Linked DNA regions of Homo sapiens. Changing the gene in region 1 together with any one later gene gives a genetic interaction. Each region holds a gene or a part of one and is shown in the gene's direction. Other genes may lie near its edges. The genes, in order: LUC7L3, TRNAU1AP and CEP295.

What was found.
Region 2: changes in LUC7L3 (region 1) and TRNAU1AP together harm fitness more than expected from each alone (negative genetic interaction), as found in Homo sapiens cells (one large-scale study listed by BioGRID).
Region 3: changes in LUC7L3 (region 1) and CEP295 together harm fitness more than expected from each alone (negative genetic interaction), as found in Homo sapiens cells (one large-scale study listed by BioGRID).

The regions. Positions count from the first base shown.
Region 1 is NC_000017.11:50,718,469-50,722,402, forward strand, and holds the start of LUC7L3 (luc7-like protein 3), read left to right. Parts: upstream 1-1,134; 5' UTR 1,135-1,264; coding exon 1,265-1,363; intron 1,364-3,934. UniProt on the Homo sapiens protein: Binds cAMP regulatory element DNA sequence. May play a role in RNA splicing.
Region 2 is NC_000001.11:28,563,004-28,566,729, forward strand, and holds part of TRNAU1AP (tRNA selenocysteine 1-associated protein 1), read left to right. Parts: intron 1-1,699; coding exon 1,700-1,831; intron 1,832-3,726. UniProt on the Homo sapiens protein: Involved in the early steps of selenocysteine biosynthesis and tRNA(Sec) charging to the later steps resulting in the cotranslational incorporation of selenocysteine into selenoproteins. Stabilizes the SECISBP2, EEFSEC and tRNA(Sec) complex.
Region 3 is NC_000011.10:93,724,020-93,727,745, forward strand, and holds part of CEP295 (centrosomal protein of 295 kDa), read left to right. Parts: intron 1-234; coding exon 235-356; intron 357-1,631; coding exon 1,632-1,812; intron 1,813-2,956; coding exon 2,957-3,618; intron 3,619-3,726. UniProt on the Homo sapiens protein: Centriole-enriched microtubule-binding protein involved in centriole biogenesis.

The DNA.
Region 1 (3,934 bases):
ATTACGAACCCAGGCAATCTGGCTTTAGAGACCATACCCTTAACTGTGCTAAAGCATTATCCCAACATACGTTGATATATTTGTGACTTTATTTCTTCAGCGATTATCTCCCCTCGCCAATGCACAGGTCTGCGGGAGCATGGACTGTCTGAAAGGTTCTGAGTTTAGCTTTAAGCACAGTGCCTGGCACATACCATTTGTTGAATAAATGGATCTACCTATCTATATATATGTGTGTGTGTGTGTGTGTATGTGTGTGTGTGTGTGTGTGTGTATATATATATATATATATATATATATTTTTTTTTTTTTTTTTTTTTTTTTTGAGATGGAGTTTTGCTCTTGTTGTCCAGACTGGAGTGCAATGGCGCGATCTCGGCTCACCGCGACCTCCGCCTCCCGGGTTCAAGCGATTCTCCAGCCTCAGCCCCCTGAGTAGTTGGGATTACAGGCATGCGCCACCACGCCAACCTAATTTTGTATTTTTAGTGGAGACGGGGTTTCTCCATGTTGGTCAGGCTGATCTCGAACTCCCGACCTCAGGTGATCCGCCCGCTTCGGCCTCCCAAAGTGCTGTGATTACAGGCGTGAGCCACCTCACCTGGCCTACTGGATCAATATCTTTTTAAAAAATTCCACACTGGGAGACATTTGGTGTAGGACTGAATCCCCGTATTTTAGAAGCCGCCTTGTCTCTTCTTGCCTCGATTTCCCATCCTGTTAATCAGGAGACTCAGGGCGGGAGGACAAAGCCAGGTGCAAGAGGCGTGAGCACAGCGACTAGGAAAATGGAGTCGGAAGCCGTAATCTTCAGTTTCCTCCGCTGCATGAGGCACCATGTGCACCACGTGGACTAAAGGAGACACTTTCTCCATTTTGAAGCGGTGTCCAGGCTTCAAGACCTAGGCTCCAATTTCTCACCGTGAAGAAGCTCGGGAAAACCGGGCGCTTGGGGAGGCGCGCGGGCAGAGGCTACCCGTCCCCGCGGCCTCTAGACAGGGGCGGAGTCCCTACCCGGCCTCCGCGGGCCCCGCCCCCGGACGGCGGAAGCCGAGCTCGCCCTCTCCGCCCGGGCCTGGGCGTGTCCCACGGGCGCACGGCATGCTGGGAAGGCGTCCGCGCGGCGGCCATTTTGTCTTGTCGGCTCCTGTGTGTAGGAGGGATTTCGGCCTGAGAGCGGGCCGAGGAGATTGGCGACGGTGTCGCCCGTGTTTTCGTTGGCGGGTGCCTGGGCTGGTGGGAACAGCCGCCCGAAGGAAGCACCATGATTTCGGCCGCGCAGTTGTTGGATGAGTTAATGGGCCGGGACCGAAACCTAGCCCCGGACGAGAAGCGCAGCAACGTGCGGTGGGACCACGAGAGCGTAAGTCCCGCGGGCCTTGGCCTGAGCCCGGGCTCCGTGGGGGAGGGGAGCGGGCGCGGGCTGTGGCCCTCCTGGCCGCGGCGCGATGTGGCCAGGGCCGCACCCGGGGTCGAGCGTCTGACCCGGTGCCCATGGAGCCAGGAGGGAGGATGCTGTCCGGACCCGGGGATGGGGGTGATTTGGTTTTGTTGTTCTAGTATCAAGGGGGTCCGGGAGAGCCCTTGGCATAATTGAAAAGCACCTTGATGAGGCGGGGAAACGCGGGAAAGAAGGATAGCAGCGTCTTATTAAATCTAGCGGCTCCGAGGTTTCACCTCATTATGAAATAGGGAGAAGGGCACATTTTTCTATAGTTTGGGTTGAACGTCGTATTTAGACTAAAATTTCTGACCAGGATTCATGGTAAAAATCGTGGCGGTATTTTATTTAAGTAATTACAGCATGACGCTTATACGGGGAAATAGAAATGTAAAAGAAGTCGTTTACTTGTTAGGGTTTACCGTGATGATTTACAAGTATTGTTCGTTAACAGTATTCTAAGAAGTCCCTTATAGAGGCAGCTGTCAAGGTTTTTTCTTCCACATAAAACTCATTTGATGCTCTTAGCCCGGGGAGTAAAGGTAAATATTATAACCCCAGTTTCACTGGTGAGACTTAAAAAGGCTCACCCAAAGTCTTGGCAACTGAGGAAACTAATCTTTGTAGTTCTGTTAGCTTTCCACAATCCTATGAAACTGGTTCTCTGCACCTACTGTAGCATTTCAAGTGTTTTGATCTAGTTTTGAACATGCAGTGTAATGTTTACTTTAGGTCTTATCTGGAGAATAGATACAGAATTTAATTTTACTTTGAGGTTATAATCTAACATGCTAATTTTAAAACAATTGCTAATCAAAATAGGAAGGAATAGTTCAGGTAATGCATGCTTCTTTAGAAAACTGTTTTCTTACTCTTTTTAAACGTAGGCTTTGGTTAAGGTAAAATTTCTTTTTTGCAGTGTAGGAAAGCAAGTTGGTGCTAGATGACTCCTTTTAGGACTTTAAGAAAGAGTAAGTTTGGCTCAAGTTGTGTTGGGGTGCTAACTGATTCCAAAGTAGTATGAAACATTCTTAGAGTAGAATTTATTGTTTTTAAGAGGTGGGTTTTTTGTTTTTAACATTTAGGCTCCCCATCCCCCCGACCATTTGTCACAATAGGAGACTAAGGAACTGCTTACCTTGACCATCTTTCTTTTGTAGGCATCTTTGTTATAGCGAAGTAACTTTTTTTTTTTTTAACTACCTGACTCTGTAACCTTTCAGTCTAAACTTTGCAAATGTGTTAGGAATAACGCTCAAAATCCTAAGTAAGGTAAAAAACCAAAACATTATGGCGATTTGGCTTATGTTCAATAGGTTATTTGTATATTTTGAATTCAAGAGAAAAATGCTTTCCATTGCACTCCTTATCAGTTGGAACAGCCTTGTATCTCTGCACCCTTGACTTTGAACACGTTTTAGAGAAACTGTTTTCTTTCCCGGGGTAATTTGTTGCCACATTGCATTGTATGTGATGGGTTTATGACTCTTCAATGATGAGGCCCTCAGAATAGCAATTTAGGTTTTATGTCATCTCAGCCGTAATCTGCTTTGCTTTCAGTTTTAGTACTTTTCACTAATTTTAACTTTCAGTGTTTATTACTAAAGTATTTAATGCCTTAATGACAGATTGCACTTCACTCTAGATTGAAGGATTTCAAGTCAGTTACTGGCATTTCAGATTGATATCTGCAGGGAAAATGTTGGTAGTGTTGAGCAAAAACAAAGCACATGGTCTCATCTAAATAGGTGGAATTATTGTATAATGAAGCTGGGGAAGCTGTTGATATCGTTTCCGGGTCATCTGCATATTCTTGTACTGTTGGCTGTTAGTGCTAAACCTGCAGGGATGGGCAAACCCATTATATGCTGAAAAGGAGTCACCTTTTCTATAGCCTAATATTTTAACATATTTTTGCATTCCTGTTCTATCTGGAAATTTTTCTTGGCCATACTTGCATTAAATGGAAGAAGCCATTTCAGCTGGATGGGGCCCTTGTTTTTTTTTTTGGAATAGAGATAAATACCAAAATAAGGAAAGGAAGCAACCATTAATTAAAAGACAGTTGCCGTGGCATCTGTAAGTATTTAACAGTCAAAATGCTAACTTTACCTAGTATTAAAGGTAGTCCCTAGATAGCTGTATTTGACCTGTGGAATTTGTTTTAAATGCATATTTCTGTACTTCAACCCCTTCAACTCCCCTTCCCAGAGAGTCAGATTCTGTCTGTCTTGGGGAAGGGTCCCAGTATCTGCATTTTTTATGGCTCCTCTTATGCATTCTTTTTTTTTTTTTTTTTTTTTTTTGAGACGGCGTCTTGCTCTGTCTCCCAGGCTGGAGTGCAATGGCGTGATTTTGGCTCATTGCACCCTCCGCCTCCCGGGTTCAAGCGATTCTCCTGCTTCAGCCTCCCCAGTAGCTGGAACTACAGGCGCCCTCCACCACGCCCAGCTAATTTTTATATTTTTAATAGAGATGGGGTTTCACCATGTT
Region 2 (3,726 bases), on another chromosome or scaffold:
TCCTGCCTCAGCCTCCCAAGTAGCTGGGATTACAGGCACCTGCCAATGCGCCCAGCTAATTTTTATATTTTTAGTAGAGATGGGGTTTCACCATCTTGGTCAGGCTGGTTTTGAACTCTTGACCTTGTGATCCACCTGCTTCGGTCTCCCAAAGTGCTGGGATTACAGGCATGAGCCACTGCGCCTGGCCTTGTGTATTCTTATTATACAAGGAATATGTATAATATGTATAATCATACCTGAAATAAGATAATAACAAAGGTAGGCCGGGTGCGGTGGCTCACGCCTGTAATCCCAGCACTTTGGGAGGCTGAGACGGGCAGATCACAAGGTCAGGAGTTTGAGGCCAGCCTGACCAACATAGAGAAACCCCGTCTCTACTAAAAATACAAAAATTGGCTGGGCGTGGTGGCTTACACCTGTAATCCCGGCACTTTGGGAGGCCGAGGAGGGTGGATCACCTGCGGTCGGGAGTTCGAGATCAGCCTGGCCAACATGGTGAAACCCCGTCTCTACTAAAAATACAAAAAATTAGTTGGGCGTAGTGGCGGGCACCTGTAATCCCAGCTACTCAGGAGGCTGAGGCAAGAGAATCGCTTGAACCTGAGAAGCAGAGGTTGCAGTGAGCTGAGATTGCGCCACTTCACTCCAGCTTAGGGGACAGAGCGAGACTCCGTCTCAAAAAAAAAAAAAAGGAAATTAGCTGGATGTAGTGGCATGTGCCTGTAGTCCCAGCCACTTGGGCGGCTGAGGCAAGAGAATCGCTTAAACCCAGAAGGCAGAGGTTGCAGTGAGCCGAGATCACGCCACTGCACTCCAGCCTAGGTGACAGAGTGATACTCCATTTCAACAAAAAGAAAAAAAAAATAACAAAGGTTTGTGTGTTCGTTTATTTTTTTAATAGAATTGACCTCCTATAATAGGAGTTGGTAAACTTTGGCCTGATTTGTATCACCCACAAGCTCGCAGTGGTTTAAGAGGTTGGGTATGGTAGCTCACACCTGTAATCCCAGCACTTTGGGAGGCTGAGGCAGGTGGATCATTTGAGGTCAGGAATTTGAGACCAGCGTGGCCAACTTGGCGAAACCCCGTCTCTGCTAAAAATACAAAAGATTAGCTGGGCGTGGTGGTGCGCACCTGTTATCCCAGCTGGTCGGCAGGCTAAGGTGTGAGAATCACTTGAACCTGGGAGACAGAAGTTGAAGTGACCCCAGATCACACCACTGCACTCCAGCCTGGGCAACGAGCAAAACTCCATCTCAGAAAAAAAGATTGGGGATTTAATTTTCGCTAGGCTTTACGTCCTTAGAAGATAAGATCTAGTTCTTTTTTTTCTGTCTTTTAACATTTATGTTTAAAATATACAAGGAATGCAGAATGCATTATTATGCTGTTTTTATGCAGTTTTATCTTTTGAGTGCCTTAGATGCACTTCTGACCCCATCCACACATCTGCACTCATGTAATACTTGAAGTCAGACAAGTTCTGTGGAGTGGGTGAGGGATTTGGGGCAGGGACTATTTCCCTAACTCTTCTGCCAGGACTGCTCTGATGAAACAAAGTAGGGGCTGGTTAAGTAGACCCATCAAATGTTTTCCTTAAGGGGCCTGGGAGAGGTTTACCTGGAATATGCAAAAGAGCTTTTCAGAGCAGAGGTTTTGGTCTTTGCCTCTGAATCTTCTTGTTCTCTCTCCTCAGCCCTGAGTATTCCCTCTTTGTGGGGGACCTGACCCCGGACGTGGATGATGGCATGCTGTATGAATTCTTCGTCAAAGTCTACCCCTCCTGTCGGGGAGGCAAGGTGGTTTTGGACCAGACAGGCGTGTCTAAGTAAGGCCTTACTTGTTACTGATGCTTAACTGTGTTAGTTTCAGCCTTTCTCTCCTGAGTGGAGGTGTTTTAGAAAGGCCCTGCAGCATGGCGATTAAGACCACAAGCTCTGGAGCCAAACTGCCTGGTTCAAATCCCAGCTCCAATACAGGTGAGGGAGAATGCCAGTATTGTAGAATTGAAGCTCTGTGACCCTTACAGCCCCATCTGTAAAATGGAGCTGATTAATAATAGCTGCTTGTAGGGTTGATGTAAGGATTAAAGGATATAATATAAGTAAGTCACATTTGAAATGCTTTATAGGTGTTTGCTGTTTTGCTTGTTATTGTTACTGAGCCTTTCAGTGTAGTTAGAAGTGTTCCACTTCAGGCTGGGCGTGGTGGCTCATGCCTGTAATCCTAACACTTTGAGAGGCCCAGGTGGGTGGATTGCGTGAGCTTAGGAGTTGGAGACCAGCCCGGGCAACACGGTGAAATGCCGTCTCTATTAAAATACAAAAAATTAGCCGGATGTGGTGGTGTGCACCTGTAGTCCCAGCTACTTGGGAGGCTGAGGTAGGATAATTGCTTTAACCTGGAAGGCGGAGGTTGCAATGAGCCAAGATTGTGCCACTGCACTCCAGCCTGGGCAACAGAGCCAGACTCTGTCTCCATAAAAAAAAAAAAAAAGTTGGCCCGGCATGGTGGCTCACACCTGTAATCCCAGCACTTTGGGAAGCTGAGGTGGATGGATCACCTGAGGTCAGGACTTTGAAACCAGCCTGGCTAACATGGCAAAACCCCATCTCTACTAAAAAAATACAAAAGTTAGCCGGGCATGGTGGCATGCGCCTGTAGTCCCAGCTACTCGGGAGGCTGAGGCAGAATTGCTTGAATCCGGGAGGCAGAGGTTGCAGTGAGCTGAGATCACACAACTGTGCTCCAGCCTGGGTAACAGAGCAAGATTCTGTCTCAAATAAAAAAAAAAAGAAAAAATGGAAATCGAAGAACCTCAAGAAAGGCTCATTCTTGGTCAGTATGGTAGTTATATGCTCAGGCTTTGAGAGTGCAACAGGTGTGGCTTTGAATCATGCTTCTGCCATGACTTTGGGCAAGTTGTTAAATCTCACTGAACTGGTTACCTCTTCAGTAAATGTGGATACCACTTTCATGGAATTATTAGACAGTTTGATTAGATCACCCTGAGAAAATGCTCAGCACAGGCTGGGTGCGGTGGCTCACGCCTGTAATCCCAGCGCTTCGGGAGACAGGCGGGTGGATCACCTGAGGTCAGGAGTTCAAGACTAGCCTGGCCAACATGGTGAAACCCTGTCTCTACTAAAAATACAAAAATTAACCAGGCATGGTGGTGCGTGCCTGTAGTCACAGCTGCTCGGGAGGCTGAAGCAGAAGAATCGCTTCAACCTGGGAGGCCGAGGTTGCAGTGAGCCAAGATCGTGCCAGTGCATTCCAGCCTGGGAGACACAGCGAGACTCCATCTCAAAAAAAAAAAAAAAAAGAAGAGCCGGGCGTGGTGGCTGACACTTGTAATCCCAGCACTTTGGGAGGCTGAAGCAGATGGATCACCTGAGGTCAGGAGTTCGAGACCAGTCTGGCCAACATAGCGAAACCCAGGTCTCCACTTTAAAAAAAATACAGGCCAGGCGTGGTGGCTCATGCCTGTAATCCCAGCACTTTGGGAGGCCGAGGCGGGTGGATCATGAGGTCAGAAGATCGAGACCATCCTGGCTAACACGGTGAAACCCTGTCTCTACTAAAAAAATAAAATACAAAAAATCAGCTGGGCATGGTGGTGGGTGCCTGTAGTCCCAGCTACTCTGGAGGCTGAGGCAGAAGAATGGCGTGAACATGGGAGGCGGAGCTTGCAGTGAGCCGAGATCACGCCATTGCACTCCA
Region 3 (3,726 bases), on another chromosome or scaffold:
TTTTGGTCACTGAGAGGATCCATATTTTGGACCTTTGAAATAATCATGATAGGACTTAACTTTAAAGCATCTGCTGATCATGGGGGAAAAACTGAAGTTTTTGTTACACTGGAGTTACCTGAAAATAAGCGTTTATGAATATGTTCTTAATACTCCTTTTCTAGTGTTTACCTTAAAAATAAATTTATGATTTTTTTCCCTCAAAAATTCTAACAGTTGACCTTGACTTTCCAGAATTGGAACACATTTTTCCTAATTTGCATCATCAGCTGTTTAAACCCTTAGAACCACATCCAGATTTTGACTTATCATCATCATCCTCTGGGATTTCTCCAGACAACAGAGACTTTTACCAGGTATATTAAAGTAGATGTCCCATTGCAGTGAATATCTAAAAATAGTTTTAAGCCATTTCTTCTACTGGAACAAAAGTTCTTCTAAACCCTTACCTAGAATCACATGGAAGTCTGGGCACAGTGGCTCACACCTGTAATCCCAGCACTTTGAGAGCCCAAGGCGGGCAGATTACTTGAGGCCAAGAGTTCGAGACCAGCCTGGCCAACATGGCAAAACCCTGTCTCTACTGAAAATACAAAAATTAGCCAGGTGTCGTGGTGCGCACCTGTAGTCCCAGCTACTCGGGAGGCTGAGGTGGGAGGACCACTTGAGCCCAGGAGGTGGAGGCTGCAGTGAGCTGAGATCGTGCCACTACACTCCAGTCTGGGTGACAGAGCCAGACCCTGTCTTTAAAAAAAGAAACAAACAAACAAACAAAAAGAATCACATGGAAAACTTAAATAAAAAATAAAAATAAATCCTATTGTCCAGACTACACCCTAGACCAATTAAAGCAGAGTTTCTGGGAGTGCTCAGATAGTACTAATTATTATTATTATTTTTTAAGCTCCCCAAGTGATTCTAATGTGGAACCAACTTTGAAAACAGCTGCATTGGGCCGGGTGCGGTGGCTCATGCCTGTAATCCCAGCACTTTGGGAGTCTGAGGCAGGTGGATTGCTTGAGGCCAGGAGTTTGAGATCAGCCTGGCCAACATGGTGAAATCCCATCTCTACTAAAAAACACAAAAATTAGTTGGGTGTGATGGCATGCCTGTAGTCCCAGCTACTCGGGAGGCTGAGAACCGCTTGAACCTGGGAGGCAGAGGTTGCAGTGAGCCGAGATCGTGCCACTGCACTCCAGCCTGGACAACATAGTGAGACCCCATCTCAAAAAAAAAAAAAGGAAAACAGCTACATTAGAATTTTGTTTGTCCCATCCACCTGTCTCCACCTAGGGAGTATGATGCCATAAAAGGCTTAATAACAACTTTTAGTTGTGGAACATATTTAAACAGTAAAGTAAATACAATTTTGCAAAATTTAAAGTATCCTCCTACACAGTCAAAGGAGCTGAGATTTAAACCTGAGTCTTTTTGCTTCCACTTCCTGATGGCCTGACATTTTAAAGTCTCTTTCATATTGATTGAAAAGAACTGGATTTGAAAAAGCAAATCATTGCTGTCATAGTGAAGTGATAATTAAGGAAGAGTAATACCAAAGGAACACAATGATTATTGTTTCAATTGTTAATACCTAATCAGTATTTCAGCCTTTCCCTTTTGTTTCCTGCCAGAGATCAGATTCTTCATCTGAAAGCCACTGTGCTACTGGATTATCCAAAAGTACAGTTTATTTCACAGCACTGAGGAGGACCAGCATGCATTCTTCTCTTAACACAAGTCCGAATCAACAACCTGACACTAACTTGGCTCATGTTGGAGCTCACAGTTTTGCTACAGAAAATATTATTGGGGGTATGTATGACTAAGTTAGAAAAAGTTAATTTTTCCATGATTTTTTACATCCATTTCCTTAGAAATTAAGCCTAGCACCTCTTGGTTTGTCTTCACCCCTGCTCTCACCCCTATCCTGGGTGTTAAAAAATATTTAAATTACAGAAGTAATACATGCATTTTTTTAAACAATACTGAACATTATGAAATAAAAGGAAAAGTGTTGCCTCTTGTTCCTCAATTTCCCTACCTCAATCATTATGTGATAGTTAACAGTTTAAGTATTATTTTTTTGTTTGTTTTTTTTGTTTTTGTTTTTGTTTTTATTTTGTTTTTGAAGACTGAGTTTCACTCTTGTTGCCCAGGCTGGAGTGCAGTGGTGCAATCTTGGCTCACTGCAACCTCCGCCTGCTGGGTTCAAGTGATTCTCCTGCCTCACTCAGCCTCCCAAGTAGCTGGGATTACAGGCATGTGCCACCACACCCAGCTAATTTTCTATTTTTAGTATAGACAGGGTTTCACTATGTTGGTCAGGCTGGTCTAGAACTCCCGACCTCAGATGATCCACTCGTCTTGGCCTCCCAAAGTGCTGGGATTACAGGTGTGAGCCACCATGCCCAGCCAGTTTAAGTATTCTTCTTAGGCCAAGTATAGTGGCTCACGCCTGTAATCCTAGCACTTTGGGAAGCTGCGGCAGGAGGATCCCTGGAGCCCAGGAGTTCAAGACCAGCCTGGGCAACATAGAAAACAAGTATTCTTGAGCCTTTGGTACAAATGATTATATATACACACAAACATACATGAGATACACAAGGATGTACAAATTATATATACACACATGGATAATTGAGATACACATGGATGCTTTATTCTCTTTTCTGTTATTAAAGTCATATTCAGTTCTTATAGAGGAAAACATCCTCAGTTTATAGCCATATTGTCCTTATTAAATATTAATAGAAAAAGAAAAAATACTTGGTGTGAGCTGTAGTTTGAGAAATCACTGTGACCATCCTTATCTTTGTATTCATGTTTATACACATCAACTTTTATGCCTAAAATTGTAGGTTACTTGCAATTGGATGATAAACTATTAGAGACTGTCAGTATCCAACTTTTACAACATGTAACGATGATTAACTGATTTTTGAATTTCTTAATGCAGGATCTGAACAATGTTTTGAACAGCTTCAGCCAGAATATTCTTCACAGGAGGAGAGCCAGCATGCTGATCTACCAAGTATTTTTAGCATTGAAGCAAGAGATTCTTCCCAAGGCATGAAAAATCAGAACTATCCCTCTGAAGAACATACTGAAATATTACAAAACAAGAAAAAAATTGTTCATTTCCAGCTTTCTATAGGAAACTTAAGTTCAGTCTACAGTTCATCTGATGAAGCTAATGTATTTGATCAGTTAAATGTACAGCATAGCACTCCATGTGGTTCTAACTCTAGTGAGTGCTCAACAAAACACCAACTAGAAAGCAGAAAGGAAAGTATGGGCTTTGAAGAACTATCAAAAAGAGGGGTTGTTACAATGTTACAAAGTCAAGGACTCATTGAAGATAATAAAAATGAAACCTGTAGGGTTTTAGACATAAATCCACAGGTAGAGGAAACTGACTCTCGATTATGTGTAAGAACAGTGGAGATGGGAACTTCAATTCAGGCACCATATTCCTTAACTACTCAAAATGAAAAATATTTTGAGAATTCAGCTGAAACAGACATTCCAAAAATCACCAAAAAACTATCTCAACTAGGAGAATCAGAGCTTTTTGCAAGTTCTGGATCATTTTCATTACAGAGCTCTATACCAGTCTGGGTAAGTGAAATCAGTGTTGTATAAATAACATTTAAATTCCTTTTTGGGAAAAAACTTTTTTCTTCTAAAATTAGAGATGAAGTTCCCACTATGCTACCCAGGCTGAAC